Homo sapiens: one gene and its partners. The protein of the gene in region 2 purifies or fractionates together with the protein of the main gene of each other region. This does not show direct contact. Each region holds a gene or a part of one and is shown on either strand. Other genes may lie near its edges.

Region 1 (5,697 bases), on a different chromosome or scaffold from region 2:
ATTTTGAGTTTCAAAGCTAGAGGCAGATGGGCTTTCCTTCCTTAAACCTTTAAGTGTCAAGAGACATGACTGCTTACATGCCACATTCATGGAAAATTGCCTCATTAGAGAATTTCTGATGTGATACACTAGACATTTAAAATAGTTCTAGTGATAAGGAACTGGAAAATATTAATAAAAAGAAAGAGGTAAAAATGTGTTTCCTGTCGCTAATCATGCCAGGACTGTGACTCTAGGCCTCGCTGGCTCATGTCTCTTCGTAGAACATCAAATCATCACATAACAACATGACCACTGCGGGCATTTGTGGATGTCTGGCCAGAACAGTCTAGAACTCAATCACTCATTGTCTCACCACTGAGTCCATGAATGTTATCATTTCCCCTGTAATTCCACTCACCCACCATCCATTATCTAAAAAATACAGGAAACTCACTTTTATTTACATCTCACAAACTTAGAGATAATATGCACTGAAGAACTCTTCACTAAGTGCTGTATTACTTCACAAAATACTATGGCATTTATAAAAAACCACTTGGCTTAATGTAGTTATGACTATCACACACAAAGATACACATAAAACTTACAAAGAAATGTCATCAGAACATTTTAATATTAATTCAGATGATATTATAGCCCTGAAGTTGCAAAACTGAGGCCTGGTCATGTTAAGATACAATCAGGAGACACACTTGAATACCTGGTAACAAAAAATGACTCTGACTTCTTTGTATATTTGAGTCCTACCCACACTTTTAAGACCAGCCTAAAGTTAACTTTCCTTATCTGTCCTACTGCTTGTGGGATCTATAACTACACATTCTGGAACACATACACAGTTTTAATGTTATTCAACTGTTTTGTGCTGCTAGTCTTATCACCTCATTGAATTAAACACAAGTTCCAAGAGGGCAAAAACTGTATGTCCCTACAGCATTACAACAGGGCTAGGATTCCAGATGTTTTCATTGACTTTATCTGTACCACTTCTTGCTCTGCAGAACAACTTACTCAGATGTTCATTAAATAACATTTCTTGATTTCTAGGAAAGGTTGATACAGGGGGCTAAGAAGGCAAAAAAGTACTAGGGGGACATTTTAAAAGCTTATTATATTGTAGAGCAGACAATTCTTTAGTCAAGAAAAATATTGTGTAGTATGTAAATGCTTTGGCAGTTACCCCAGCTTTGAAGATCTTGAAGAGCTATGCATGGATTGTCTCCAGTTCTTTTTTGTATCTAAGCAGGCTTTACCTAATGACAGTGGTTCCTCACATAAGTTCCAGTGAACTTCAGGATTCCATGAGGCTGCTCTAAGACTTGACTGATAGATGGATGGCCATGATCGCCGTGTTTAATCTGAGGTTGTTCCTGCCCAGGTACCAACTGAGGTCGTTAGGCTTCAGGTATAAATGGAAAGCCTTCCTATTAATCAAGGAGAGGTTTTCCATCACCGGAGAACACTCTGATGTCCTCAGGAATGACACACAGGTGCCTGTACACAGTTTTGCCCCTAGTCTCAGGACCATTGGCTAGCTTATGCATGGGGGTTCCCTGCCTTCCAGGGAAATAAAACTGTAGCTGTAATTTTACTGTTATTTTAGTTTTTTTTTTTTTTCCTTCCGTCTCCTTGAGAGAGGCAGACAGGGGAAGTAAGAATAATGGTTTCAGCAGCTCTGGCCCTTGAATAAACAGCAAGGAAGGGTTCCATCGTCAGGGTCCATTATACATAAAGTGTGCACACCTAACCTACTGTTTATGTAAACAATGGTTATAATTCCCAGGAAAAAAAGATGGCCTCCAGCTCACTTACTCTGTAACCCGTATCTTGATGATTAGTTCCTTTGTCTCTACTAGAATTTCCAATCCATCATTAACCCTCAGTCAAAATGCTGAAAATGGTGACATCACTTAATATCCTAATTCTAGTAAAACAGGGCTAGAAAATACCTTCATAAAATTAAGTTTAAATAATAAATCTCAAGTATTAGTGCTCTTAATATGCCATCTGTCTTCTTAAACTGGGAGTACCTTTGGATTTCCTTAATTCCTCTTGACCCACCCTTTCGTAAGTGAGTACGAAATGGGTGAGAATAAGACTTTGGCATCTATAGCATCTGATTAAATCTTTACTAGTAGTTATTGGTTGGTGAGATGCAGGACAATTTATGTCTTTAAGTCCCAGCTGAATGGGGGTAACACCGCTCAAGCTGTTTTCAGGATTAAATGAGATAATGCAAGTCAAATTCTGCACAGCGTGAGGGACACAGTATGTGCACAACAAACTCTAAGACTTTTAAACACTTTCAATTATTTTTAAAAAGTGGGGTAGGAGACAAGTTTCTACCCAATTTTTAGTAATAACATATAAGAAGGGGAAAGCTTTTGAATTTTTAAAACTTCAGTATTTTAAAATAATGCAGTCACTCTCACACACAAATTAGTCCATGGTCTTTGATAAAGCAAGACATTAGGTGTAATTTTGCTTCAAATTTAATACCCACACTCGTTGACACTGTTGGAAACACTGAGGCTGGCGGTGGGAGGGTGCAAAGCACTTGCTTAGGAACCAGCTGAGAAATCCTCACTGATTTCTCAGGGAGGAGGAAACCTTTCCCTTCCCTCCCCGGGACAAGTCGAAGCCCCACCCCGAGGGAGATTTGTGTCCCTGAATGTAGTAGTTGGTGTCCGGGGCCTGCGCAGAAGAGGACAGTCCGCAAGGGGCGGAAGACAAGACAAAAATGACTCCAGTTCGCTAGACGCGCAGAGGGGCGGATAGCGCGCGGACCCCGCCTTCCCCAACCGAGTGTGGGTTCCAGTCGCTGGGGAGGACCTGGTGGCCCCCTGACCTTGGACGAGCCATATTGGACGCCCCGGCGCCGTCCCGTCTTCCACGCTGCCAACTCCACCGCTCCCGCCCCGAACTGCGGGTAGGTCCAGGCCGCCAGGCCCCGCCTCGCCGGCCCCAGCCCTGATTGACACTGGAGTTGGTACATACGGGTCTGCAGCGGAGGCGAGCAGGAGGGTGAGCGCTATTTTAAACATGGCTTTCTCTTTCCCTTAGCCTAGGAGCCACCGCAGCGCACCCAGCCCGCGAGTACAGCCGCATGGGAATAATCCCAACATTTGCCTGATTTATTTTCTTCCCTCTCCTTACGCTTGTACTTGTTTTTCTCCTCTCGCTGTTTTCCCTTCACACTAATTCGCAACCTGGCAGTTTGCAAAGAGGAAACTCCCTTTCGGAATGGAAAGCCGCTTTTGCTTCTTGTTGTTGGGGGTGGAAAACATTCCAGCGAGAATGAGTTCAAAAAGAAGGGAAACCGCGTCACTGGAGAGAAAGTAACATTAAGAGATCGATGAGGACGGAGTGGGTAGGGGGGACAGAGAGAGGAACGTCTGCAACAGGCATCTAAAAACAAGCGTGGAGGAGCAAAGATTCCCAATCCCCGGGTTACTACCGCGCGCGTTCTGCGCGAGCCATTGCAATGCCAGCATTTACTGTAAGCAGAATTTGAAGGCTTTTGAAATCTTTTTTTGGTAAGACTTACCTTTCTCTTCGGCATAATGACTATGTCGGTGAAGCAAAAAGTAAAGCAACGGACTGGAACTGCTGGCGCCGCCGCTGGATGCTGCCTCTGCCTCTGCAGCTGCTCACGCGCAGGGCACGACGTAGCCCGGCCTCTTCGACCTGCACCTCCGCGGCTCCCTCTGGGGGCCCTCTGCTCGCCTCCCTGCTGCTCCAATGAGGAGCCCCGCCAGCCGGCCGCGAGGCCCCATTGGCTGAGGCAACGTTCTAAATTCCACGAGGGCACGCCCACCTCCGCGCGCGGTACGCGCTGTTGTAGTTTCCACTTCACCGAAAAAAATCTGCCTGGCGACTGAGCATGCCCAGTTCAACTAGTAGCCTCCAGGCCACACAATCCTGAAGTTTCATTGTTTCGCTGCTCTCTCTTTGAGATTGTAAGAATAAGAACAGTGTGTGTCTTCATAGGAAGGAAAAAGAGTAAGAATGAATACGTAAACTTTATAATGTAAATATATACACAGCAGGTACCTTATTCATTTCCTACCCATAAAGGCTTTTAATGAATGTTACATGGTGGGAATCTGTAAAGCGTGGGAAGGTACTCTGTACTGGAAGAGCGTGGCAACTTCTAAAGGCCTCAGTTTCCCCCCCTAGATATATAGTGACAACAGTCCCTAAAATCACTTAGCTCTAATTTTCTGAAATCTGTGATTATAAATCACTCACTAATTCAGCTAACTTCAAACTAGATGTGAAGACGAATAGGACATGTTTGTTACGGAAATTAGGAAAAGAAAGAACAAGGCAAAAACTGATTATTTTATATTTGAGACATATATTTGAATGACACCCGTCATGTTACACTTTATGCGTAATATTTCTCAAAGTTCTGCAAGGCATAAAATGAGCATTGCAAAAATATTTCTGAATTCATTTTATGAGACCAGATTTACTCTGATACCAAAACCAGTGAAAGACTTCAAAAGAGAGTTACAGACCAATATCACTCATAAACATAGACACAAAAGTCGTGAACAAAATTTTAGTAAATGAAACTCAACAACATTTAAAGGGACAATACATCATGACCTGTGGGGCTTATCTTGGGAATGCAAAGCTGCTTTTTTAATATCTGAGAATCAATCAATGTAATTGGCAGGATTAATAGAATAAAGGGGGAAAAACAATCCTTTCAGCAGATGCAGGAAAAGCGCTAGTGAATGGGTAAGCAAATTGTGATGAGCACATGCAGTGGAATACTATTCAGCAATAAAAAACAATAAAAAATTTTCCTACATGGATGAATATCAAAAACAAAGTGCTGTACGAAAGAAGTCAAATACAAAAGACCACACTGAATGATTGCATTCATATGAAATTATAGAAAAAGCAAAATTGGGCAAAGTTAGTTTCAGAATCATCTTAGCAGGCAAAGCTCACATCATAGGAAAATGTGTTGAAGCCTTACATTACAAATATGGCCAAATCCACTTTGGTAACACAGAGGCTGCAAATATGTATTAAAAATATCATGTATTAAATATGTATTAAAAAAGCAATGAAGTTTAATATTTCACTTTTTCTTTAGTAATTTTCAGAATACATTAATTGATCTAGTACTCTCCAGAGGTGGTTGATTACTTTCTTTTTTGGAACATCTTTATGAACTCATGGATTTTTACATATTTGGTGTGCATCAGTGTATTGCTATCATTATTATTACCTTTTTAATGCTCCTATTACCACATCTTTAGCCAATGCATACCCTTTCAAATTAGTGCTTGTGTCCTTTTGACATGATCTTAATCATTTTTGATAGATTCCCTGTTCTTGGGCATTCAGTGAATGACAATAGTATACTGAAACGAATTAAGATAAAAACCAATTGCTTAGAGCTAGATAAAAATTTACAAGTTAATAATTTTATCATTAAAATAATATTTATAATGAAGATGTCTTTCAAGATATTAATTTGCCAAATACTTGATAGTTAAATAAAGAAAAAGTCAGTGAAAACATTTTTAGTAAGATATGTGTGAGAAGGATACTGAGTAGCACTTGCAATCTGGACTGGATGGCTATTTTTCTTCATGGAGATGGAAAGGTGCCACAACAAAGGTAGTGCTAAGGTGAATATTTCTCCTCTGTGATGAAAAATAACTCACAAAA
Region 2 (4,897 bases):
ATATAAATTTTAAAAAACACGTTGGAAAGGATGTACAACAGAAGGCTATGTATGTATATACAGTATGTCAAAAGCCTTTTATTTTTATACTTCAAATGCTCTAAATTAATAAAAAGTAATAATTACCATGTTATCTTTTACTTTTTATTTTCAAAATGCTTTAGTGAAATAGCCCCGTAGTAGAAATAGCCCACGGTAGTAACTTAGGACAGGTGTCATATGGACTTTCAGTTATTCTTGTTGACTTTACTGAATCAGCATCATCTCTGGATGCAGATATAAAATCAAGTTTGGTTACATCAAGACCAAGGAGATATTTTTGTTGATACATGTTAGTATAGTAATCCTTAGAAATGCTAAGTGTATTTCTTTTTCAGAACATTTCCCCTTCATCATACATATTTTAATACTGCAGACAGCTGACTTCCCACCTGAAGTTGTCGTTTAAAACTAATAACCTGAAAATGCAGTTCTGTTCTATACATTCTTCCTAAAAATGGCACAGGTAGGCATGCTGAATAAAGGTATTTGGATGCAAATACTGATGGCTGACAAATGGGTCCAAAGGTGTTTCCAATTTGTGATTTAACATGACAATATCTCATCAACAAAACTTATCTTCAAAGAGAACTATGTGGAGGAAAGTAAATTTTATTTCATGTTTCCTACTTGTGTTAGAAGAGATTTGGAATACCTTGATTTAAACATGCTTAAACAACAGTGTTTTAACATTCTGTTTTAAACAATGTTTTAAAATACCTATTTATTATCTTACAGCAATATGAGATATAAAGTAGATGTAGGAAAATAGAGCTGATATGTGCATAGTTACTAAAAAAAACCAACAGATTTACATTTTAACATAGTATTCATAAAATTAAACATTCTTAAAAGGTCATTTTAGTGCACTTTAAAAAATTTTTCTTGTGCTCTTTAAATATTATTTATGGAATAATTTAATTCATTATAAAAACTGCTTAAATTTTGGCTTAACTTTTTTTTAATCCAGTCTTTGAATAATTTGATTTATTTTCAATAGTTTAAGCATTTCTAGACCTCTTAGGAAAAATGCTGATCAATACAATGAATTTTCATTGTGAAGCATTGAAGAGGAACACAGGAGACAAAGTTTCTATTTATTTTATGAAATAAATATATGATTTCTATGCTATTTTTCTATATTCACTTTAAATACCTCATTGTTTCATATTATTTTTTTCTTCTCACAGTTTTATTTATACAGCCAAAACTATAATCTCAAGTTGCCTATAGACATTTTTTAAAGTATTAAAATAGATTTTGTTCTTGAACAGTTTTCTCCTTCATAATTATACACCTGGCCGATCGATAGTCTCTCTTCTTCATGGTGCTGCATAGCAAATATCCATTATCTCAAGGGGGAAAAACACTTCATAGGCAATCACCAGTTCTCTTGAAGCCATGAATAGGTGTATTCATAAACCAGCAGCATCACTGCACCACCTAGAAAAGAAAAGAGCTGTTTTTTATTGCAAATCCTCTGGAATAGCACTGGCTTTCCCACTGGGTTTCTGAATCCATGATGTCTCGCACAGCCTGTCAGGCAGAGGCTGTTCGGAATCAACAGTTCTGGAGCTTCAATACCAAGATATAAACTACTGTGGAAAATTCTCAGGATAAAATCAAGACCATCTTGAGTCTCCAAATACATTTTTCCCCATGAGTTTTTGCAACTTTCATCATTTGTCATCAGATTCTTTTTCAAGCACTTTCAATTTTTAAAAGTAAATAAATATAGGCATATTTAGTCATGTAAGGGCATGTGGCTTTCCTGTGAACAGAAACCTTCAGATTCTTCATGTGTAGATAAAGGATTTATCTTTTTCAGTCCGTAATTAGCAGTCTTAATTGCATTCAAGAAGAAAATCTCTAAGATGGTGCTTGATGGATGAGTCTAGTTTTCTGTCATAGCTTTCAAACTGCATTGCTACGTGGAAATTAGATTCTGAATATTTAAAAAATCTGCATTGCAAAACCTAACAAAAGGAGGTTGAAAGCTAACCTTCATTCCTTTTATCTGCTTCAGTTGTATATGGATTTGAACTTGAAAATTTGGTAGTGGGGGTTGGATGGCATGAGACCACCATTTGTCTTGGAAGAAAAGAGCTACATAACTGGCTGTGAAGAGACATGCTCTGTATTATGTCAACAGGAATGTGATACAGAAAAGCAGGCACTGAGGCTGCTGAATACCTAGCCACTGGGAGAAGCATTTGTACATGGATCATTTTATGTTCTATTTGATGCAGTAAATAGCATGTGTCCTGTGCCCTTCAGGATAATCTCTTTTTATCCTTTTATGTCTAACTGTGTGAAAAACATCACAAAATCAAAATTTGGACAAATATCCTGAACACAACTTAGAGAAGACTTGGCTGCATGAAATAGAAGATTGACTTCTGATGGAAAGAAATAGAACTTGATTTGGGTCTTAGTTATTTTGAACACACTGCCATATACTTTTTTTTTTAATCTATAGGCTGCACATGTTTGTGTAACCATATACCAAAGATAATTATCTGCCTGTAATTTTCATTTTTAACCCATGAAGATACTCTATTAGTCCCTCTTAGCTTCTCTAGGCCTCTTGGAACTCTGGCAAACAAAAAGAGCTGCACTACAGAGGGTCATTAATGTGTAGGTAATCGCTGCATTTATTCTTACTAATCATTCACAATGTAAGACAAGAATATGCAGAGTTGGGTTAGTTTTTGGCCTAGTAACAGTTGAGGTTTAAATCACAGACTTCAAGATTCTTTCATGGAAGGTACCTGATTGTTAGCCACATTGAGCTGCTAAGGCTATTGTAAAAATGCTGGATGCTTCTCCAGAACAAAGAACAAAAATTCCAGGCTCACCTTTCTTTTCTTTTTTTTACTGTCTCTCTCTCATTCTTTTTTTTTTTCTCTCTCTCTCATTCTTTAAAGAAAAAAATTTCACCCTTCATTCAAAAGTCTTAATCTTTAACTCAGTGGTACCTTTCTTTCTAGGTTTCTTTGCTTTGAAGTCGCTGGGATGCACACATTTGGAATGAAGTGGAGGGCAGGTCTGTGAGTGGTTCCCAGATATTCACAGTTTGGCTTAGCCTGGACAGTCAGTTCACAAGAACCCTTTTCTTTGAGTCTAACACCACAGCAACTCAGGACCTCTCACGCAAAACATTTAAAAAGCCAGCCAAACATTTGCAAGCCTCTAACAAAACTTGGGGTCAGATTATTTAAGAGTTTTGGATGAAGGTTCCAGTCAATTACCATTTTAGCTAACCTCTCCCTTGTCATCACCCTTTTTAGGCCCATCCCTTTCTGAGAATGTTGGTTGAGGGCTGGTGCTGTGATTTCCTCTCATATTAGGTCTACTAGCAGGTTTTTACTCTGCGGTGAAGGAAAAACACCACATACTGGCAGAGATGCACAAAATTCCCCACGTTCTATTACTGCGTTAGCTTTTACACATGGGCCAATAACTAACGGAAGGTAGGTCTGAATCCCAAATATGAAACAAAATCCATGTGTAAAGGCCTATAAAGATTGGGATAGATGGGTTGGGAATTGTGGAAGTGTTTCCTAAATATATGAAAGTGTGAGCTGTTCACCAGCTTCAATTTACAGACTCTTGTTCTCTATCTTAGATTAATAGAAATGTTGGTTCATTGGGCTGAGATCTAAAGGTGAATGTGCATGTGTGTTTGTGTAGCAGGGTAGGAGGACAATAGTGTTAAAAGGGAGGAACTGCAAAGGGAGAGAGGGGAGGTGTAGGAGAAGGTTCTAGGAAATATTACCAGTATGTATAAGTAGGTGAGTGTAGCCTGATAAAAAAAATATATGTGTGGTCTAGAGTATACTTTTGTACTTATTCACAAGGTTGCTTATAATCTGAGACTATTTGCCCTGGCGGTTGAGTCTGCAGAAGTTATTTTCTTATCTATTTACATAGAGGCAGCCGATTCTCCCTGTGGGAATGGCAGCCGGTTTTTTTGTGGGTAGGCGTCCTGAAGTGAGGCCCTGAGCCAGAAGCCTCCAGCGTCATGCTGACAAAGCCCAGGAGAGGTAAGCAGCTAGTTACGGTGTCACCACTCCCCAGAGGTGACTGTAAAGATGAGTGGCTTTGCTGTTCATGGAGGCAAGCTGTCCTCCTTTTCTTTTTTTGAAATGAAGTTGAGGCAGGAGCAAGAATGAATTAGGAGCACGAGGAAACGTTTGACTGGGCTGGTCCCTCACTCAGTGAAAAGCCTCCCCTTCAGCCAGAAGCCACTGCACACACCTCGGCTCTCACTCAAACTCCAACTGCCTGTGGCTTCTTCCTATTGACTTAAGCTGGGTTTTGGCTTCTGTTAGCCTCCAGCAAGTTCATAAATAGTACTTAATAAACAAAGGTAGAACATTTCTAATGGATGTCTTCAGTATCTCAAATACTCATAGACAACTTTATATTCTCAAGGTTTCTGTCTTTTACAAAGTGGTAAATATTTTGTTGCTGATGGACACAAATATCAAAAAAAGAGACGCTAGAACAATAAAGAAGGAAGGATTAAATAATCAAAATTATCATTACCTGGTCCAAGTCTCATAATCTTGGGAAGCAGGCCTTTGTACAAAGCTAAAATCCTGTAATGGGAAGGGAAAGAGAAACGTTCTTATTCTGAAAATAAATGGAGTTGTACCTTAGCTTTATTGAGATAGGGACCCAGCATTTAAAAAAATAAATTATTTGGAATTACACACATCTCAAAGCAGACAGCATCTTAGTATTCTCTGCAGCAAACTGGATGCGGGGAAAGAGTTAATGAATTCTTTATTACCCAACTGTGCTGGTCCTGTCCAATCAGAAACATGACTTTCATCAGTGAGATGGTTTTTGC
Region 3 (4,669 bases), on a different chromosome or scaffold from region 2:
TTAACATCCCAATTACCTCCATGTTGGTTAACTCTGTGGTCAATTCTCACTCCTCATCTTAGATTATCCCCAGCATTTGACTGGAGATAGTGCTCTTGGCTGGGGATAGTCCTTCCTGAAATGCTTGCCTCACATCCTTCTGCGACCCGTCCCCTGGTTATCTCTTACCTATGGTCTCTATTCCTCTGCTTCCTCTCTTAAAGTTGGTGTGCCCTGGGGCTTAGTCCCCTGACCACTTCTCTATCACCCTCACCAGCCAGTTGATCTCAGTCAATGTTAGTTTCTTTTTTGTTTGTTTGTTTGAGATGGAGTCTCGCTCTGTCGCCCAGGTTGGAGTGCCATCTCGGCTCAATGCAAGCTCTGCCTCCCAGGTTCACGCCATTCTCCTGCCTCAGCCTCCCGAGTAGCTGGGACTACAGGTGCCCGCCACCACGCCTGGCTAATTTTTTTGTATTTTTAGTAGAGACGGGGTTTCACCATGTTAGCCAGGATGGTCTCGATCTCCTGACCTCGTGATCCACCCACCTCGGCCTCCTAAAGTGCTGGGATTACAGGCGTGAGCCACCGCGTCCAGCCAGTTTTACAGTTTTTATCTCATTGATATGCCAGGGTCTGAAATTTATGTCTCTAGCTATCTCTCTAGAATTCAAGGCTTGTTTATTCAACTGCTTACTCTACATGTCTTTCCAAATGTCTAACAGATACCTAATACCTCACATGCCCTAAATTGAACCTGTGATGTTCTCAAACCTATTCTACTCACTGCCTTACCCACCTCAGTTGATGTCAATGTTATCCGACTACTTTGGCCACAAACTTTGGAGTCTTTCCTCTTTCTCACATACTCCACATTCAGTCTATCAGGAAGTTGTGTTGGCTCTTACTTCAAAATATATCCAGAGCCTGAACACCTTCACGGCTGCCCTGGTCTGAGTCACCATGATCTCCATCCTGAATTACTGCAATACCCACTTACTGGTCCCCATTTCTGCCTTTGTCCCCTCCCATCAGTTCTCTACACAGTGGCCAGAATGACCCCTTAAAATGCAATCAAGGTATTCTTTTGCTCCAATCCTCCAGTGGCTCTCCAGCAAGAGCAGAAGCCTTCCAATGCCCTTCCAGCCCTGCACAGCCTGCTAATCTCCCCTTCTTCTCTCACAGCCACACAGGCCAGAGGCTGCATCCCAGACACATCAAGCATGCTCAAGGCTCCAGATCGTGGCACTTGTTTTCTCTGCCTCGAATTCTCTTATCCTAGATATCCACCTGTCTTGCTGCTTCACCTCCAACAGACTTTTCCTGTCCCTCTATTTCAAATCCCAATTGTGTAGCCAACTCTGCACCCACTTTCCAATCCTTCAGTTTTAACCAAAGCAGAAACACTACATTTTACTTGGTCTACTGTCTATCTCTTCCTGCTATATTTAAATTCCATGAAGCCAGGGAATTTTGTTCACTGTTGTTTCCCAACACTTGGAACAATTCCTTGGCATATAATCGAAGCTCGGCATTGAATAGATGAAAAAACATGAATGAAATGGATACAAGAATAAGGTAATGAAGTAGTCAGGATGACACTGCAAGTTTTAGCTGAGAAACTGGACAGATGGTGAGATGCAGAAGCCTGAGAGAGGACTAGGTTTCAGGGCTCAGGACAGAATAGAGCTCGGATTTGGAGATATTGTGAGATGTCCATTAGACATCAAATAGACACATTAGTAGTAGGCAGTTGGATACGTAAGTCTGAAATTTGGAGACTCTAGGGGTTAGAGTCAAATGTGGGTGGCCATCAGCTTATAAGTGGTATTTAAGTCCTGAAGCCAGATAAGCTTATCTGGTCAGAGAACAGAGAGAGAAGGGACTAGGCCCAGTTTTGTGCCAAACTTAGAGACCGAGCAAAGAAGAGAGTGTTAAAAGGGACTGAAAAGAAGCCAACAGTGAGGCTGGAGGAAAGCCAGAAGTGTTGTAGGAAGGTGGGACTGGAGAGGCCAAGCACAAAGACAGATGTAAGCACAGGCTCAGCGGAATGAGAGGACAGAAGCTGACTGATGTGGTTGGAGGACAAAATGGAAGTGAAGTGAAGAAGCAACAGTCCACTCCTTACATCAATTTTGCTGTGAAGGGGAACAGAAAAGCAGGATGGTCATGCCCTAGACTCATTTCCAATCACTGCTTCATTCACAAGCATTCCACTCACCCTCTAACCACTCATCTCTCCAGCCCACTTCCTCAAGTACTGGCACTTCAACAAGTCTTCAGCCCCACGACGACCTGGAGGCCCATGCTCTCCCTTCCTTCCTTACCCTGCTTCCTACTTTCCATGGCCCACCAAGGCCACTTCTTCGCATTTCCCCTTCTCCCTTTACTCTCTTCTCTCTCCCTCCATCACTCAGGCAAACCTTAACTCTGACCAAGTCAACTCTTAGTTTATTTTAACCCTGCATTCAAGGAGCTAAACCTGGCTGAATCAAACACACAACTATGCTGATAAGCCTTGTTTTCACCTTATGAACATACATCTCAAGTAGATCTTGAGGAATACCCTGCAATATACCACATTTCCCTGGTGAGTTGACGTTCCTACTTTCGAAGATGATTACTTCACACCAATACTTTTCCCAAGCCTCCAGGACCCCCTCCCACTTCTTCACTCTAATTATTTTGCTTTTTAGTTCACTGAGAAAATAAATTGAGACCACCTTGTCCTCCTGCCACAAGATCTTCTAACCTACCTACATCTATGCCCACACACACTGCCTTGTTGCAAAGGCCAATGCTTCCATTTGTACACTGACTGCATCAATTTCCCCCTCCTATGGGATTATCATCACGCACACACGCACAAAGCTGCAGTATTTCCCATCCTGAAAAAATACCTTCCTCAGATTTCCCTCCAGATACCAACCGTTTCCCTGCCCCAACTTCTCAGGTCTCTGGGATTCTCTGCAGGAGTTCCCTCCCTAACTTCATTCCATTTTCTGATCATTGTCACTGCTTTAGAGAGATGCCACCTGTATAATACAGTCTGTCCTCTCCCACCCAACTAAACCCTTTTTTCTCCTTCCCCGTTTATTTCTCATTTGCACTTTTACTACTTCAAGTTATAAGCTCGTCTCCCCTCTAAAATCTAAGTAAGCTCCTTGAAAACAGAAGTCTTTATCTACTCAACCCATACTACCTACATATTGTGGCCACTCAAATCATTGGTTAAATTACAGAAAAAGGTATTTGAAAAGGGAGGTTCAAAGGCAGCTCTTCATTTTTAGTAAAGGTAAAATACAATAGCATCTTTTTATGCTGATGGGAAGAATCCTGTAGAAAAATTTGTTAATGCAGGAGTAAGGGATAACGTAGAAGATAGAAGAGATATAAATATAGGCACATTGCTGGAGTTTGAGAAATGGAAAAAAATAAGGTCTGGGATGAAACCTCCACTGGTTCTCTGTATGTAATACTATCCTTGGAATCCTTCCCCACAGAGCTGACTGCTGGGATTGTATTCTGAGAAGACACCGTTACCCCTTGCATGAGATTGACCAAAGTCTGTGGCATACTGAATTTCATGATGCAGCAGGATTCCTAATAAAAATGTGTATTTATTTTTGCATAGCTAAAACATTAAAGCCCCAGGGTGGTTTAAAAAATAATAGCCTACACATTTTTTTCATGTAAACTAAGAATGACATTTTCATTAGTGCCTCTTTCTCTTTCAGGAACTATGTGAAAAACAACATTTGTTTTATGAGTCATCACCAAGAAGAATTAGTGCCAAAACAGCCTCAAAAAAGAAAACCCCAGGAGCAGCTCTTGGAGTGTAACAAGCTGTGTGGTAGGGGCCAATCCAGGCAGCTTTCTCCAGAGACCTAATGGCCTCAACACCTTCTGAACGTGGATAGTGCCAGAACACTTAGGAGGGTGTCTTTGGACCAATGCATAGTTGCGACTCCTGTGCTCTCTTTTCAGTGTCATGGAACTGGTTTTGAAGAGACACTCTGAAATGATAAAGACAGCCTTTAATCCCCCTCCTCCCCAGAAGGAACCTCAAAAGGTAGATGAGGTACAAGGTCCTAAGTGATCTCTTTTTCTGAGCAGGATATCAGGTTAAAAAAAAAAAGTTACTGGCTGGTTTAATACTTTCTACCTTCTTCACAGAGCAGCCTTTGAATAGACTATGTCCTAGTGAAGACATCAACCTCCGCCTTAAGCTATGTATGTATGGAGGCCAGTCGCAGCTTTATTATGCAGACACACAAGTGGTCTGGACATGAGGGTACAGTTTCTGCCTACCAAGACACTACTTGCACTGGATCTTACGCAAAAAAGAACCAGAACACACAGTGTGGACAACTGCCCATATATTCTATCTAGATTAGGAGAGGGTCCTGGCTAGGATTTTAGTGGTAATTCCTAGTTACATTCAACAAGTATAAAGATTATAGAGCTTATTTTATGAACTATAAACTATAATTTAATGCAAAATATCCTTTTATGAATTTCATGTTAATATTGTGAAATATTAAAATAATTCCACAATAGTTGAGAAAAATGAGCATTTTTTTCCATTTTTAAAAAATGCATAGAAAAGACAATTTTAAAATCCTGGGACCATATTTATTTAGAAGTAGCTGTTAGTAAAACATTAGAAAAGGAGTCAGGCCATTAGGTTATT
Region 4 (4,897 bases), on a different chromosome or scaffold from region 2:
GGAGCCATTACCCATTCTGCAAATGGTTCCTGCTGCTTAGTTTCCACATTCTGCTGGGAATTTTGTGGCTACATCTCTGCACATTAGCACAACCTTGGGATAACGAAGGAGTGCATTAACCTCATGGCTAAAATGAGGATTCCAGTTTGAGCAGATAGTTCACCATGCTTCATGTGGATAATTTTGAGTAAAGAGCGTACAACAACCTAGGTTCCAAACTGTACCTTAAATTAAGTGCCTATAAAATCTGACAAATGTTTCTCATTTTGTAATTAATAAACTGAAACTATCAAATTAGGTATAAGTTTTAGGACTCAGGCCATCATCTCTTTTATAAAAAGGCAAAAAATGTAGGTTGTAAATTAAACTAATTAATTTTGCATTGTTTGTGATACATCTAATTTATTTCCCCAAAATGCATACTTTAGCCAGAAGTCTTGCCACAACCACTTGCCAAAAATTGTTTGGCCTTAACATCTCCAGAATGAGCTTCCATAACAATAATGTACAGTCAGAGGTGATTCATACAGCTTTTCTTTTCATAAGAAAAATCAATCTGGGTGATGCTACCATAAAGACTAATATTAAATGAGAGGGAGGAGGAACTTGTTTAATCTAAGTGTTCACAATGAGCCTAGAGTGGTTACCCAAATAATCAAGAATAAAAATGATCACACGATGGTCTACTATGACAGGGAAAATATTATGCTGCTTATAATGGCTTTAAACTCATACTGCTTTAGAAAAATGCCAGATTACAACACCAAAATATAAAAGCAAATTCAGTTTACAATGAATCCCATAAGTACCCAATCTAGCTAGGACCTTTGAAAGTAATAAAGTAGGTTTGTTAGCTATTTTCAGTATCTCAAAAAATCTAATGGAAAGTGAATATTTGTACCATGCAAGCAATCAATCCCCCCTCAAACTCCCCTGACACACAACCCCACTAACCCACACAGAACAAAATAAAACTCCAAAACAAAACACAGCACATCACCTTTTATGTGGTCATACTGTTCCCTAGAAAGGGCTAAACTTTCATTGCTAATTTCTTAGAATTAAGTAGTTCAACAAAAGTGGCATAGTTCACAATCAAGTTCTAGAACTGCCAGCACCTGCATAATTATTTCACTGCCGAGAGGTCTAAGTACAACAAAGGAGAAAAAAAGATAGTCTTTTAAGTGTGGTGACAGACCACAATCCTGTTTTGCTGAATAAGAATACATCTATTAATTACTTAATGTGTTCTAGAAAAATTACTGCCAACTTGAATTTACATAAAGAAATAGATCTGCATTTTGCTGGGAAATTTATTAGCCAAAATTTTAAGGAAACTTTCTTTTTCTTTTTTTTTTTTTTTTAAGAGATGGAGTCTCGCTCTGTCACCCAGGCTGGAGTGCAGTGGCGCAATCTTGGCTCACTGCAAGCTCTGCCTCCCGGGTTCATGCCATTCTCCTGCCTCAGCCTCCCGAGTAGCTGGGACTACAGGCACCCGCCACCACGCCCGGCTAATTTTTTGTATTTTTAGTAGAGACGGAGTTTCACCGTGTTAGCCAGGATGGTCTCGATCTCCTGACCTCGTGATCCGCTGGCCTGGGATTACTGGGATTACAGGCGTGAGCCACCGCGCCCGGCCAGGAATCTTTTTTGACTGAGATGTTTATATTCATCTATATTAGTGGTAATTTTCCTCTCTATAAAAGTATGTTTTCTAAGTACTAAAATTGGGGAAATGAATCTGCCTCTGCTTTCTAATATATAAAAGCCATAAACACAATACTGGAAATTATCTCCTTCAGCTCGGACAAAGAATATTTCTACTTTGAAGTCTTGAGCAATGATAAATAGGGTAATTTGTGGACTTTATCACCAAATTCTATGGATAGACTTTTATCAATAATTCTGAGCTCTCCATCCTGCTTCGTATTTTCTATAATCTTTCCTGCTTTTACCCAGATCCTTCAAGGTCAGACAAAGAATAGTCTATTTATAATAGTTCCATGTACTTCTCATAAACTTTTCATTACCTACACAAATACTATGTATTTTCACAATTGAGAAGAAATCCTCAGCCTCTTTATAAGATTTTATTTCAATCTAAAATCAAAATTTCAATTAGGAGAACATATGACTTGACTTTGACAAGTACTTTACATTTAAAAGATTATGTTTATATATATATTTAAAAAACTTAATTCAGGATAGGCATTTCATTTAAAAAATACCCGGTCATATTTGAACATACAACTTGACTATGACAAGTACTTTAATTCTAAAAGTTTAAATAATTTTATTAAAATTAAAAGTTTATAATTTTATTTATAAATAAAAACTTAATTCAGGATAGGCATTTCATTTTAAAAAATATCTGGTCATATTTTTAAGAAAGGTTTTAGAGTTAAGGGACTACACACAAGCTAGATCATTGTCTTCTATAAACTGGTTCACTTTTAAGAGGAAAAAGGGTACTCAAACAGATATTTTGTGCACCTATGTTCATCGCAGCATTATTCACAACAGCCAAAAGGTAGAAGCCACCCACCCAAACGTCCACCAATGGATGAAAGGATAAACAGAATGTGGTATATACATACAATGGAATATATTCTGCCTTAAAAAGAAGGTAAATTGACACACGCTACCACATGGATGAACCTTGAAGACATTATGCTAAGTGAAATAAGCTAGTCACAAAATGACAAATATCATATGATTCCACTGATACGAGGTACCTAGAGTAGTCAAATTCATAGCAACGCAAAGTAGAATGGTGGTTGCCAGGGCCTGGAGGAGGAAGAATGTGGAGTTCATGTTTAATGGGTAGAGTTTCAGTTGGGGAAGATGAAAAACGTTCTGGAGATGGATGGTGGTGATGACTGTACAACAACATGATTGCGCTTAAGGCCACAGGACTATACATTTAAAAATGGTTAAAATGGTAAATTTTATGTTACATATATTTCCCCACAATAAAAAAAAAGAAGAGATATAATTGAGTAACATTCTGAAAATCAAACAATAGTCTATCTAATCACAGATGAACCGGATATTTGAATTTTTAAAAAGATGCCTATACCTAGAATGCCTTTAATTTCACTGCTTATTTTTTGTTTTGTTTTATTTTGTTTTTTGTTTTGCTTTCTCCCTCCTTTATGCCCCTATCCCCTAAGTTCATTTAATTCTATTTATTCATTTTGTGAGTTATGGGTTTTTAAGGTGGGATGACCAGAAGCCAAGAATCACCAATTTTTATGTTCAAAAAAAATTGTATTCTTAAAGTCTAGTCCATGTAGCCAAAGAATACAATTTCCTATCCTACAGTAGTATTGTTTTGTAATAAGCTTTATCCTTAATACAATATTAGTTCAAGTCAATTTTCTTCTGTCTGCTCTATACAACTCTGAGTTGTATACTTTCCATAATAATATCTATGGATTTTCCTGTTGCAAAATTTCAGTCTTAACTCCTAACTAGAATTTTTGAAGGATTACTGATCTATGATTTATAAAATTTATAGTAACTTGCTTTCAAGTTCATTATTTTCATGACAAAGCTGCAAAACATAAATAATCAGAAAATTTTGCCTCGGTTAGGGGATGGATTTTGTAGACACATGCTCTGGGTTTGAATCCTGGTTCTATCACTTAATAGATGTGTGAGTGGGTAAATTATTTAAATTACCTAATTCTCAGTTTCCTCATTTTGAAAATGTAGATATTAGTACCTAAGGGTTATTACAAGGACTATGCATGTAAAGCTCCTCAACAATGTCTGACATAGTAAATTCTTAATAAATGGCAGCCATTAACAAAAATAATCATAATAACATAATACGTAAAAATGATAAGCACACTACTGAACAGAAAAATATTATATTCCAACTTTTAAAAATGACTCCTTACAACTTTTGATGCTAAAATGAATCCAGGAAAAAAGATTAATTGTATTTTGTAAGACTTGTTTTCTTTTGTTCATCTTTTCCAAATAGTATGATTGTTAATATCTTGTTATACAAAAGAAATTAAGCCAAACAAAAATGAGAAGTAAAACCAGGTATGTGCATGTGTGTATACACACACAAACATATGTATACACACGCACACACACACGCCTCTTTAATGTGATATATACAATTTGAGGAAGCTGTATAGAAACATGAGAAAAAAGATGAAAAGTAAACAGGAAGAGCTATAGATTGCAATGAGGGTAACAAGGTATACAAATGTAGGCAAATTTCCAACTTCAAGTATTTGAACAATTCATTCAGAATCACATTATTGTCAGAAAATTATACTGTAATTCTTCTGGTCATTACCCTAGGATATAAATGGACAAGTCCAGAAAAGTTGGATGTTTTCACCCCTTGCCAACATTGGCAAAAGAATTTATTTTTTTCTTTAAACAAAACCCAATTGCTACCACAATGACCACTACGAAAGATTTCTAAGGTATATAATGTTTGATAATGGGATTTCTGCTACAATTTCACTAGAAAGCACAAAGGGTTTCTATAATACCAACTCTTACTACCCAAATATAAAGTAATATTCTGTTTTGAAAACAGACTTGTGTTTCCAAAAATGTTTTCCTTGGAACACTCAGACTTTGGGGTGGGAGGATAAAAGGGTCCTGTAGTCAAATAAGCCTGGAAAATGCTACATTCTATTTCTCTCTCTTAGATATACATAACACTATTAACATAAAAGGTTCTGAGAAGTCCTACAGTGAGCAGAGTTGTTTACATTTTTTAACCAGTGTTTCCCAAACTTATTTGGTCACAGAATTCTTTTCTTCAGGTAGCGCAAAGGAACCAGTGTTCCTCATAACAACTTATTTTGGGAAATGTACAATAAATTGCCATTGATTAGTATTAAATGTGTAATTTAATATGTAC
Region 5 (5,482 bases), on a different chromosome or scaffold from region 2:
CACAAGTCTGGAAATATATACATCAAAATATTACCAGTAATTATGTCTCTAAGTGGTGAAACTTTTAGTGACTACTTTCTTTTTGCTTCTCTGTACACTTTAAACTTTTCTATAAAGATTAGTTAACATAATTATTCAAAACTCTAAAAAACATTACAAACTATGCCACTTTCACTGACTGCATCCCTCCTAGCCCCAAACTGAACAGACTTTCACAGGGCAATAACATATCAAGGTGCTCTGATAATGAAGTCCACAGAAAATTTTCCCTATAACTGAGAATCAGGAAAGGCTCTGCTTCCTTCAAGGCCATTAACATTTGGGGGATCAATGAATGAATGAATGAATGAAGTTGCCATGTATGTTTTACTTTCAAAAGACAAGAACCATGTAACTGACCAAGTTTACCTTTCTAGAAACAAATTTGGGACTCAACTACAAAAATATAGGCCTGCAATGACCTATAAGGGAGCCGCTACACAGAGTGGCTATTGGAATATAAATTAATTAAATATAGCACATTTTCATAATCACAGAAAATTCTATTGGATAACACTGAAACACTTCATTCTTTTTTTCCCCTGGAATAGTTTCTTGTACTTATACTTTCTCTCATCTCAATTCCTGGCCATATTTATCTTCTATTTATTTGTTACTATTCTGTGATTTTGTTGCAAATGACCTTAATTCCTTTGTGGATCAATTTGGGGCATTGTACTTTGGAAATATCAGTGTGTATATATGTCACTGTTCCTGAGAGTTCAACCTTCATTTCTGACCATAAGGCAGATCTAGCAGCTCATGTAATGTAGCTATTTCCTCACAGCTCAAAGACGGAAGAGAGGCCGGGTGAAATGGCTCACGCCTGTAATCCCAGCACTTTGGGGAGGCCATGGTGGGTGGATTACTTGAGGTCAGGAGTTCGAGACCAACCTAGCCAACATGGCAAAACCCTGTCTCTACTAAAAGTATAAAAATTAGCTGGTCATGGTGGTGCGTGCCTGTAATCCCAGCTACTTAGGAAGCTGAGGAATGAGAATCACTTGAACCCAGGGGGCGGAGGTTGCAGTGAGCCAAGATGGCGCCACTGCACTCCAGCCTGGGCGACACAGTGAGACTCCATCTCAAAAAAAAAAAAAAAAGACTCAAGAGGACATTGTCAGGAACTAAGCTCCCCTGTCACAAAGGCACTATATTCAGTGTTTTTTTTTTTAAATACACAAAAAGGTATACACTGTCCATTAATGGAAAGTTTCACTATTTGATTAAAGCTTAATTTGAAGCTGAGTAATGCAATGTCTTTTTCAAATTCCAAAATACATGGCTATCAACTTATTTCTAAAATCTTAAATATATGATTTACCACAAAAAACAAATGGCCCAACCTGTTACTACTGATAAATATATGATCATGTCATCAGAGTCCTGGATACGCCAAAGAGAATCAGAAATGAAAATGCGCGCAGCTCCTGCACAGTGGGATTCCCTGTCAGCCCACGGTTCTGATGGAGTGTCGCCTCTACATAGAAGTCAGTGCAATTTTGAGTATTTTACCAGATTTTCAGTTCTAGAAAAAATGACTGGGAGTAATAAGCAGTGTAGATCAAAAACTAAATACAATTATAACAAAGATGAAAATTAATAGATGTGGCCCAAAGTGGCAAATCTTTGACTTTAATCACATGCTAACTGGATAGGCAGGGGGTACAAAGAATAAAAAAGTAAAGATCGGCCGGGCGCGGTGACTCATGCCACGCCTGTTATAATCCCAGCACTTTGGGAGGCCGAGGCGGGTGGATCACCTGAGGTCAGAAGAATTGCTTGAACCCAGCAGGTGGAAGTTGCAGTGAGCCGAGATCGCGCCACTGTACTCCAGCCTGGTGACAGGGCGAGGCTCTGTCTCAAAAAAAAAAAAAAAAAAAAATTACATATGAAATGTGGGAAAACACACTGAGAATTATTCCTAAAAAAGTTGAAGTATAATTAGAGACCCTATTGTAATTTTTAGCTCTCTGGCTACAGAATTTCCCTTCTGATACTTTGTCTAACATTTGACTTGTTTTTCTGGAATGCATCCCGTTAAGGGAAGGATGAGCATATTTATCAATACAATCTTTTAGGAAATAATTAGGAATATACCAATACCTTTATTTCCATAATTTTAATATCTTCTTGGGAATCGTACTATAGAAATTACATTAATGATGGAAAAACTTTCAGCACAGTATTGCTTCCTTTGTAGGTGGTGATGATGACAGCTAACATTTACTGAATCCTTCCCATGCTGAAAACCCTATTGTAAGCTATTTATGTTCGCTAAGTCACTTATTCTTCAGGGCTATCCTACTAAGTAAGCATTATGATTACCCCCACTTTTACAGGTGAGAAAATCGAGGCAACAAGAGGTTGGTTAACGTGCCCAAGATCAGATCGCACAGCGGTATAATAGGATGGAAAACTCCTATCACATAATGAACGTTAAGTGAAAAAAATTAGTATCCAAAACTGTAAGTCTGATGTCTCATTCTTTTTATAATTTAAGTAGTTTATAAATACCCTCATTATTAGCCATATTTCTGAGCACTTCATATGTAGAGTGCACTTTACAGAACACTGTCATGTAACCCTCACACCGTCTACGAAATAAGTGATAGTTTCCAGTTTCCAAAAACGAAAGCGGGGCTAGGAGAGGCCAAGTGCCTCGCGTGGCGCCTCAGGATTCGCCCCAGCGGAGCAGACCCCAGGGCATCCCAGGCGGGTCCCGGCCGAGCTAGCGGCCCTGCGGTGGCTACGCCCGGGCCCAGCCGCTCGCGCTCCTGGAGCCGCCGGACTACGCGGCACGCGGACGCCGAGCCTGCCCTCTTGGGTCTACATAAAAACCGAAACTACGGGCAGTCTTAACCGAAATGGAGACTTAATTTTTTAGACTGTCTTTTGTGTAGTTGAGAAAGCCCCTTGCCGGGACCCGCGCTGCTGGGCCTCCGACCGCGTCCTCACTCCGGGCCCGGGCGGGGCGGGGCGGGGCAGGCGGCGCCCAGGCTGCGTCCCGGCTCTGGCGGCCGCGGGCCCGGGCCTCCTGCGGGCCTGGGGCTTCGAGCTCAGGCCCTAGCGCTCTATGGAAGCCGCGCGCGACCCCCGCTCCCCTGCGCGCGACCCCCGTTCCCCGCGCGCGCCTCACCTGACGCGGGCACCGCTCTCCGTGCAGCCTCCGGGCGCCACCGGCTTTGCGGACCGGGGCGGGATCCCAGCTCCGATTGGCTGCCCGGCTGGGGGGCGGGGGCCCCGAAGCGGGGTGGCGGAGACCGGGAGGGGACCGGAGGCGGTGGGGAAGGGAGTGGACGGAAGGGGAGGGAGGGTCCCGGCCTCGTGCGGTCGCGCGTGAGATCCTGGCCTCTGTGCCCTGGGTCTGGCGCCTGGGGCCGTAAGAACCGTCCGTGCGCCTGCCCTGTTCTCTGCACCCAGCTTGGTGGCGAGGGGTGGGTGGTGGGTGCCGGCCGACCGGAGGGCGTATGGAAGTGGCTGGGCCCCCTCACGGTGTGCCTGGCCCCCTCACGGTGTGCCTGGCCCCGGCGTGGGGGGGGCAGGCCCGGGGGGTGTCGCATCTCTCTTATCCGCCCCCCACTCACCACGTAGAACCCACTGGATCCCATTGGTATTTAGTGGCCCCGGGCCGACTGAACTGGCGCCGAGGCTTACCTGAGTCCTTCCTGTAAATGTGAGGAGCGGAGGGAATATTCCAGGAGGCCGGTGTCTGCGATGTCCTGCTCTTGGGTAGCTAGGAAGTAGTGAACGTGGTCTAGGGAACTGCCTGGGCTCTTATCCACCTGGGAATGGGTTTGTTGGGGATCCTGATGTGGGAGAAGCCAGGGAGCTTCTAGCCTAGTGGGGCTAGGGGAGAAAACAGGGAGAGGGGTGGATTAGGCTGAAGGAAAGAGATCTCTGATCTTAAAGGCAGCGTTCTGACGGGTAAGGTTGACTGGCATTTTCCCCAACAAAGAGTTCTAGTACCGTATTCCATGACCTGACAAGCCTGTTTAAGTGAGGTTTTGTTGAGTGCAAAGAGAGAAGGCTTGGCTTTGAATTTTTATCTCCAGGCGGGACCTGCCTCCTGAACTCCATACTCCTCTATCCAGCTGCCTCCTTAATACCTCCTCTTGGATCTCTAAAATACATTTCAATCTCAACACATCCAAATCTGTGCCCCTGATCTCTTCCCCATAGCATCACCATCTCGATGGCAACTCCATCTTCCAGTTGTCAAGGCCAGAAACCTTGCTGTTTCAGAAACCTTTCTCTCACATCCCACCTCCAGGGCCCAAAAATTCTGTTGGTTGGATCTCCCTAGCATACCCAGAGCCTGACCACTTCTTACCTCTGCCTCCATCATCTGCTACCTGGGTCATGACAGTGGTCTCTTCCCTGATATCCCTGCAGCCTGTCCCCATAAAGCAGCCAGAGTGACCTTAAAAAAAGAAAGCCAGATCAAATTCCTCCTCTGCCCAAAACCTTCCCAGTGGTTTCCCAAACTCAGAGTAAAACCCAAAGCCCTGCCTGATCTGCTCCTCTGTTACCCCTACAACCTCATCTGCTACTGCCTCCCCACTGGCTCACTCTGCTCCAGTCACTCTGGCCTCCCTGCTATTTCTTATGCAAGGCAGACAGGGCTCTGCTGCAGGGTCTTTGCACAGGCTCCTGTCTGTTTGGAATGCTCGACTACTTCTCACTCTTCCTGATATTTTCTCAAATGCTGCCTCATTGAGAACTACCCTAACCACTCCATTTGAAATTGCCACCTGCCCCACTCCTGAATGACTTATTTCTTTAGCTCCTGACTGAATTTGTTTATTTAGCTTATTGTTTGTTATCTGTCTCTTCCATCCACCCCTCCCTGCTGCTGCCCCTTGGGTCATGATATGTCCTTTCTCGGAAAAATAACTGCCACTGATGAGGTACCATATTTTCACTGGCAAGGCCTAGGACATAAGCCAAACTCTGGGGTCTGATTGTGCAGTCACTTTAAATAAACCACAAGAGAAAAGAGTGATTCCCCAAAAGGACATGCTGAGTGCTGCTGCTAGGAGAAGGGATGCTGGCTAGGCAAAACCACAGATGTTCACTTGCTGAGTCAGACCAGTACACCCAGAGGAGCTTTGGGAAAGCCTGTGAGAGGGGCCCTCCATGTCCTTGAGAGCAGAATTTAAAGATGAGACCTCTAACCCCCTCACTTTCTTGTAATGATGTGTTATGAATGCATTGATTTATTTATCTTATCCTTCTAAAGTCTAGTTTTGTATTCAGTTTCTACTTTTTTGAGTAAGAGCTTCCCATTCTACAAAGTAGTGACTCTCTTCAACCTGAAGAACTTTGTGGGAGGTTGGGGGGACAGTAAGACTGCTGTAGGCCACAAGTGACAGAAACCCCACCCAAACAGATTAACAGTTAGGAGGTGTATTAAGGCTCCAGCTCCATTTCTGTGTCATTC
Region 6 (4,897 bases), on a different chromosome or scaffold from region 2:
GCAGGGAGAGACAACAGCAGTCGAAGTCCTTCACGGCATCCCGGCTCAGTCGAATGTTCTGGGTCCCATAGCCCGAGGCCGCTGGGGACAGAGATGGGCAGAGTGATGGAGGGGCGGAGCAACAGGAGACATGTCCGTCTCCAAAGCCCCAGAGAGAGGCACAGAGACAACGCGGTGGTGGGGGTGGGGGACTCAGAGAGAAACAGGCAGTTGGGAGCCGCTGCCTGTGTGCTGGGGCCACGGGCTGAACCCACAGGGAGTTGTCAACCCTGGAGGGTGAGAGGCAGACAGGCCTGGTCACTGAGTGGCAGCTTGGTGGAGGGGCTGACGGCTGACTCCCCTCCACCCTTCTGACTGTGACCAAGCTCAAGTGCCTGTCCCTCTTTGGGCCTCAGTTTCTTCCTCTGGAACATGGGGTAACAAGAGCACCCTCCCTGACACTCTGTTGGGAGGAGTGAGTTCATGCGCAGAAGGCAGAGAACACAGTGCCGGGCCACATGGGGTCATGGGATCACCCAGCTGTTGTTTACATGGTCATGGCCATCAGTGTATATCGGGGGCGGGAGAGAGACAGGGACAGAGGAAGCAAAACCTGGGGCACGAGGGGAGAGGGTGACTCCAAGACACAGCCATGTCCCGCCTCTTCCCACCCCAGCCCTGCACCTGTGTCCTTCTTCTTCTCGTGGTAGGTGTAGACGGCCCCTGCGGTGCAGTTCTTGCCATGCCGCGTCATCCTAGGGAGGAAGGGACAGTGGCAGGACTGTGGTTACCGGAGGCAGGCAGCACAGGGAAGACCTCTGCAGCCCTCAGAGCTGATCTGCCCCCCTTGATGGGAAAGCGGAGGCGGAGAAGGGGGGTGAGGTGGAAGAGAGGGAGGGCATGTGGTCGCCAGGCCTCCTCCAGGAAGTCCTCCTTCCAGACTCACCTAGACTCATTTATATGTGAAAATAGCACCTTTAACAACAAAACTCTTTGTTTGGAGGTAAGAGGGTGAGAGACCAGAGTTCAAATTCTAGCCACTACTTCAGATTAGCTAGGGTGGTGGCTGTGCCATTTAATGGAGGGGAAAAAAAAAGACACCAAGGGGGCCACTATTGTTGATGAATCCACTCCACCTTCCCTTCCCCTCTCATATCTGTAAGCTCTGACTGAGGCCAAGGCGTGGACCAGCCCAGTGATTGGCTCAAGGCTGGGCACTTAGCTAAGGCTTGACACTTAGCTAAGGCTTGACCCAATCGCTGCCTGCCAGTCCACTAGCGACTGGATCTAGCAGCTGTGATTATGTCTCAGATCGACCGATCAGAGGGCAGGTCAGAGTAGGGCTCTGTGTCTAGGGGAAGAGCTACCTCCACTCCCACTGCAGGTAAAGGAGGAAGAGAAGACCCCAGAACCCTGGAGCTCAATTCAAAAAGCAAAGCTTTTTTTATTCTGTAAGTTTTCAAACACATACAAAACCAGAATAGTATAAGGAACCCCCATGATGTACCCATGTCCTGCGGTCCAGCAGCTGTCAACATTTTGCCACCTTACTTTGATACCTTTGATCATTCCCCATACTTAAGGGCAACCCCCACCCTTTTAAATGACTTTATTGAGACACAATTCACATACCATAAAATTAACCCTTTTAAAGTGGTTTCAGACCAGGTGTAGTGGCTCACGCCTGTAATCTCAGCACTTTGGGAGGCTGAGTCAGGTGGATCACTTGAGTTCAGGAGTTCAAGATCAGCCTGGCCAACATGGTGAAACCCCGTCTCTACTAAAAATACAAAAATTAGCTGGGCGTGGTGGCACACGCCAGTAATCCCAACTACTCGGGAGGCTGAGGCACTGAGAATCACTTGAGCCCAGGAGGCAGGGGTTGCAGTGAGCCGACATCATGCCACTGCACTCCAACCTAGACAGAGCAAGGCTCTGTCACAATTAAAAAAAAAAAAAAAAAGACATTGCCTAAGCCAAGATAATGCACATTTATTCCTATGTTTTCTTCTAGGGGTTTGATCATTTTAACTTTTACTTTTTGAGTTAATTTTTGTGTATGGTGTGAGGAAGGGAGCCCCCTACTTTTCTGGAGTTCATTTGTAAAAGGAGAAGCCCTGAACCCACAGAGGCTGGGCAGCTTTCACCAAGACTGCTTGGCCAGTAAACAGCCTGCATGCCTGTTTGTTTGTTTGTTTTTTGAGACGGAGTTTCACTCTTGTTGCCCAGACTGGAATGCAATAGCATGATCTTGGCTCACTGAAACCTCTGCCTCCCAAGTTAAAGCGATTCTCCTGCCTCAGCTTCCCAAATAGCAGGGATTACAGGTGCCTGCCACCACGCCTGGCTAATTTTTTTGTATTTTTAGTAGAGACGGGGTTTCACCGTGTTGGCCAGGCTGGTCTTGAGCTCCTGACCTCAGGTGATCCACCTGCCTCAGCCTCCCAAAGTGCTGGGATTACAGGCGTGAGTCACTGTGCCTGGCCCCTGCAGGCTTTTTTATCCCTTAAAATGATTTAGAGCCAGGCTCAGGGCTCACGCCTGTAATCCCAAAACTTTGGGAGGCTGAAGCAAGAGGACTGTTGAGCCCAGGAGATGGAGATGAGCCTAGGCAACACAGCAAGATCCATCTCTATTAAATTTAAAAACAAAGAAGTTGATGGCCAGGTGCAGTGGCTGATGCCTGTAATCCCAGCACTTTGGGAAGCCGAGGCGGGGGCGGATCACGAGATCAAGAGATCGAGACCATCCTGGCCAACATGGTGAAACCCTGTCTCTACTAAAAATACAAAAATTAGCTGGGTGTGATGGCACATGCCTGTAGTCCCAGCTACTCGGGAGGCTGAAACAGGAGACTCATTGAACCTGGGAGGTGCAGGTTGCAGGGAGTGGAGATTGCACCACTACACTCCAGCCTGGTGACAGACAGAGACTCTGTCAAAAGAAAAAGAAGAGAAGAGAGAAGATCTAGTAACATTATATACTTGTCTCACTCATCTCTAAGTTGCCACCTAAAAATTCTCCCAAGCTTAAACAGTTGCAAAGGATACAATTTCCAGCAACGTAAATGTGTAGCTGATGGAATCTAAATACTGTAATAATTTGAGACCATTTGAAAAATGCAAGAAAAAGCTGTTTCAACAGCAGAAAATTATACATGTCCTGTTTTTCTCTTTGAACTTGTATTTCCGTTCCACTTCCCTCTCTGCCACCCATTTTTAATCTAACATCGTTTTTTCTTTTTGTTTTTTTTTTTGAGACAGGGACTCACTCTGTTGTCCAGGCTGGAGTGCAGTGGTACAATCACAGCTCACTGCAGCCTTGACCTCCTGGGCTCAAGTGATTCTCCTGCCTCAGCCTCTCGAGTAGCTGGGACTACAGGCATGTGCCACCACGCCCAGCTAATTTTTATATTTTTAGTAGAGATGGGGTTTTGCCATGTTGCCCAGGTTGGCCTTGAACTCCTGGACTCAAGTGAACTCCTGGCCTCCCAAAGTGTTGGGATTACAGGTGTGAGCCACTGCACCTGGCACATCATATCTTTTGTGCTTGAAAATTCTTTTTTTTTTTTTTGAGATCGAGTTTTGCTCTTGTTGCCCAAGCTGGAGTGCAATGGCACGATCTCAGCTCACTACAACCTCCGCCTCTTGGGTTCAAGCAATTCTCCTGCCTCAGCCTCCTAAGTAGCTGGGATTACAGGTGCATGCCACCATACCCAGCTAATTTTTTGTATTTTTAGTAGAAACAGGGTTTTACCATATTGGCTAGGCTGGCCTTGAACTCCTGACCTCAGGTGATCCACCCGCCTCGGCCTCCCAAAGTGCTGGGATTACAGGTGTGAGCCACTGTGCCCAGCCTGAAAATACTTGCTTTAGTGATCACCCTGTTATATGTCTCTGCAAGAAATAAAAAATATGGATAGGAAATCCTTTTAAACATTTCCCATTGTTCCTAGGCTATAAGAGTCCAATACTCTTCTAGATCAGTGGTTCTCAAAGTGTGGGTCCTAGGACCCTGTGGTCCCCCAACACATTTCTAGACAGTCTGCAAGGTCAAAACTGTTGTCTTAATAATACTAAGACATTATTTGCCTTTCTGATTCTCATTCTCTCACAAGTACACCAGAGGCTCCATGAGGTGTGACACTGCAACACTAAATTAGTAGTAATTTGTTACAACAATGATAGGAAACTAATATAGTCACCAGGGAAACGCACATTAAAACTTCACTGAAGGCCGAGCACCGTGGCTTACACCTGTAATCCCAGCACTTTGGAGGCTGAAGCGGGCAGATCACTTGAGGTCAGGAGTTCAAGTCCAGCCTGGCCAACATGGCAAAACCCCATCTGTACTAAAAATACAAAAAGTTAGCTGGTCGTGGTGGTGTGCGCCTGTAATCCCAGCTACTGGGGAGGCTGAGGCATGAGAATCGCTTGAACCTGGGAGGCGGAGGTTGCAGTGAGCCAAGATCACGCCACGGCACTCTAGCCTAGGGGACAGAGCGAGACTCCATCTCAAAAAAAAAAAAAAAAAAAAAAACAAAATAAAACTTCATTGAGATACCTCCCCACACGCACCACAAGGGTTGCAATTAGACAGAGGGGTGCAGGCGAGGACATGGAGCTACTAGAACCCTCGTGCACTGCTCAGGGGAGTGCAGACCAGCACAACCACTTTGGAAAGCAACTGTCAGTATCTACTGAAGCCAGGCATATGCCAGTCCTATGAGCCAGCAATTCGTCTCCCACGTATACACCTAACAGAAGGGTACACCTGTTTACAAGACACATACACTGCCCTATTCACAATGGCTCATAAACTGGAAACTACCCCATGCCTGTCAGCACAGAGTAGATAAAGAAACTGGGCCATATCACATAATGGAAACACCCAGCAATGAGACACAACAGCCTACTGT

Evidence for each region.
Region 1: the proteins of SLC25A21 (region 2) and HMGN3 purify together in Homo sapiens (affinity purification with mass spectrometry; one large-scale study listed by BioGRID and IntAct). This does not show direct contact.
Region 3: the proteins of SLC25A21 (region 2) and SLC2A12 purify together in Homo sapiens (co-immunoprecipitation; one large-scale study listed by IntAct). This does not show direct contact.
Region 4: the proteins of SLC25A21 (region 2) and AMMECR1 purify together in Homo sapiens (affinity purification with mass spectrometry; one large-scale study listed by BioGRID and IntAct). This does not show direct contact.
Region 5: the proteins of SLC25A21 (region 2) and BLVRA purify together in Homo sapiens (affinity purification with mass spectrometry; one large-scale study listed by BioGRID and IntAct). This does not show direct contact.
Region 6: the proteins of SLC25A21 (region 2) and NOSIP purify together in Homo sapiens (affinity purification with mass spectrometry, with the first as the bait; one large-scale study listed by BioGRID). This does not show direct contact.

Annotation. Positions count from the first base shown.
Region 1 is NC_000006.12:79,230,996-79,236,692, forward strand, and holds the start of HMGN3 (high mobility group nucleosome-binding domain-containing protein 3), read right to left. Parts: upstream 3,688-5,697; 5' UTR 3,566-3,687; coding exon 3,551-3,565; exon of another isoform or gene 3,067-3,550; intron 2,933-3,066; exon of another isoform or gene 2,679-2,932; intron 1-2,678. UniProt on the Homo sapiens protein: Binds to nucleosomes, regulating chromatin structure and consequently, chromatin-dependent processes such as transcription, DNA replication and DNA repair.
Region 2 is NC_000014.9:36,679,238-36,684,134, forward strand, and holds part of SLC25A21 (mitochondrial 2-oxodicarboxylate carrier), read right to left. Parts: intron 4,644-4,897; coding exon 4,591-4,643; intron 1,483-4,590; coding exon 1,421-1,482; 3' UTR 1-1,420. UniProt on the Homo sapiens protein: Transports dicarboxylates across the inner membranes of mitochondria by a counter-exchange mechanism.
Region 3 is NC_000006.12:133,990,353-133,995,021, reverse strand, and holds part of SLC2A12 (solute carrier family 2, facilitated glucose transporter member 12), read left to right. Parts: intron 1-3,713; coding exon 3,714-3,867; 3' UTR 3,868-4,669. UniProt on the Homo sapiens protein: Insulin-independent facilitative glucose transporter.
Region 4 is NC_000023.11:110,258,244-110,263,140, forward strand, and holds part of AMMECR1 (nuclear protein AMMECR1), read right to left. Parts: intron 1-4,897.
Region 5 is NC_000007.14:43,756,431-43,761,912, reverse strand, and holds the start of BLVRA (biliverdin reductase A), read right to left. Parts: upstream 3,234-5,482; 5' UTR 3,179-3,233; intron 1,897-3,178; exon of another isoform or gene 1,803-1,896; intron 1-1,802. UniProt on the Homo sapiens protein: Reduces the gamma-methene bridge of the open tetrapyrrole, biliverdin IXalpha, to bilirubin with the concomitant oxidation of a NADH or NADPH cofactor. Does not reduce bilirubin IXbeta.
Region 6 is NC_000019.10:49,559,959-49,564,855, forward strand, and holds part of NOSIP (nitric oxide synthase-interacting protein), read right to left. Parts: intron 4,333-4,897; exon of another isoform or gene 4,199-4,332; coding exon of another isoform or gene 4,197-4,198; intron 735-4,196; coding exon of another isoform or gene 734-734; coding exon 664-733; intron 82-663; coding exon 1-81. UniProt on the Homo sapiens protein: E3 ubiquitin-protein ligase that is essential for proper development of the forebrain, the eye, and the face. Catalyzes monoubiquitination of serine/threonine-protein phosphatase 2A (PP2A) catalytic subunit PPP2CA/PPP2CB.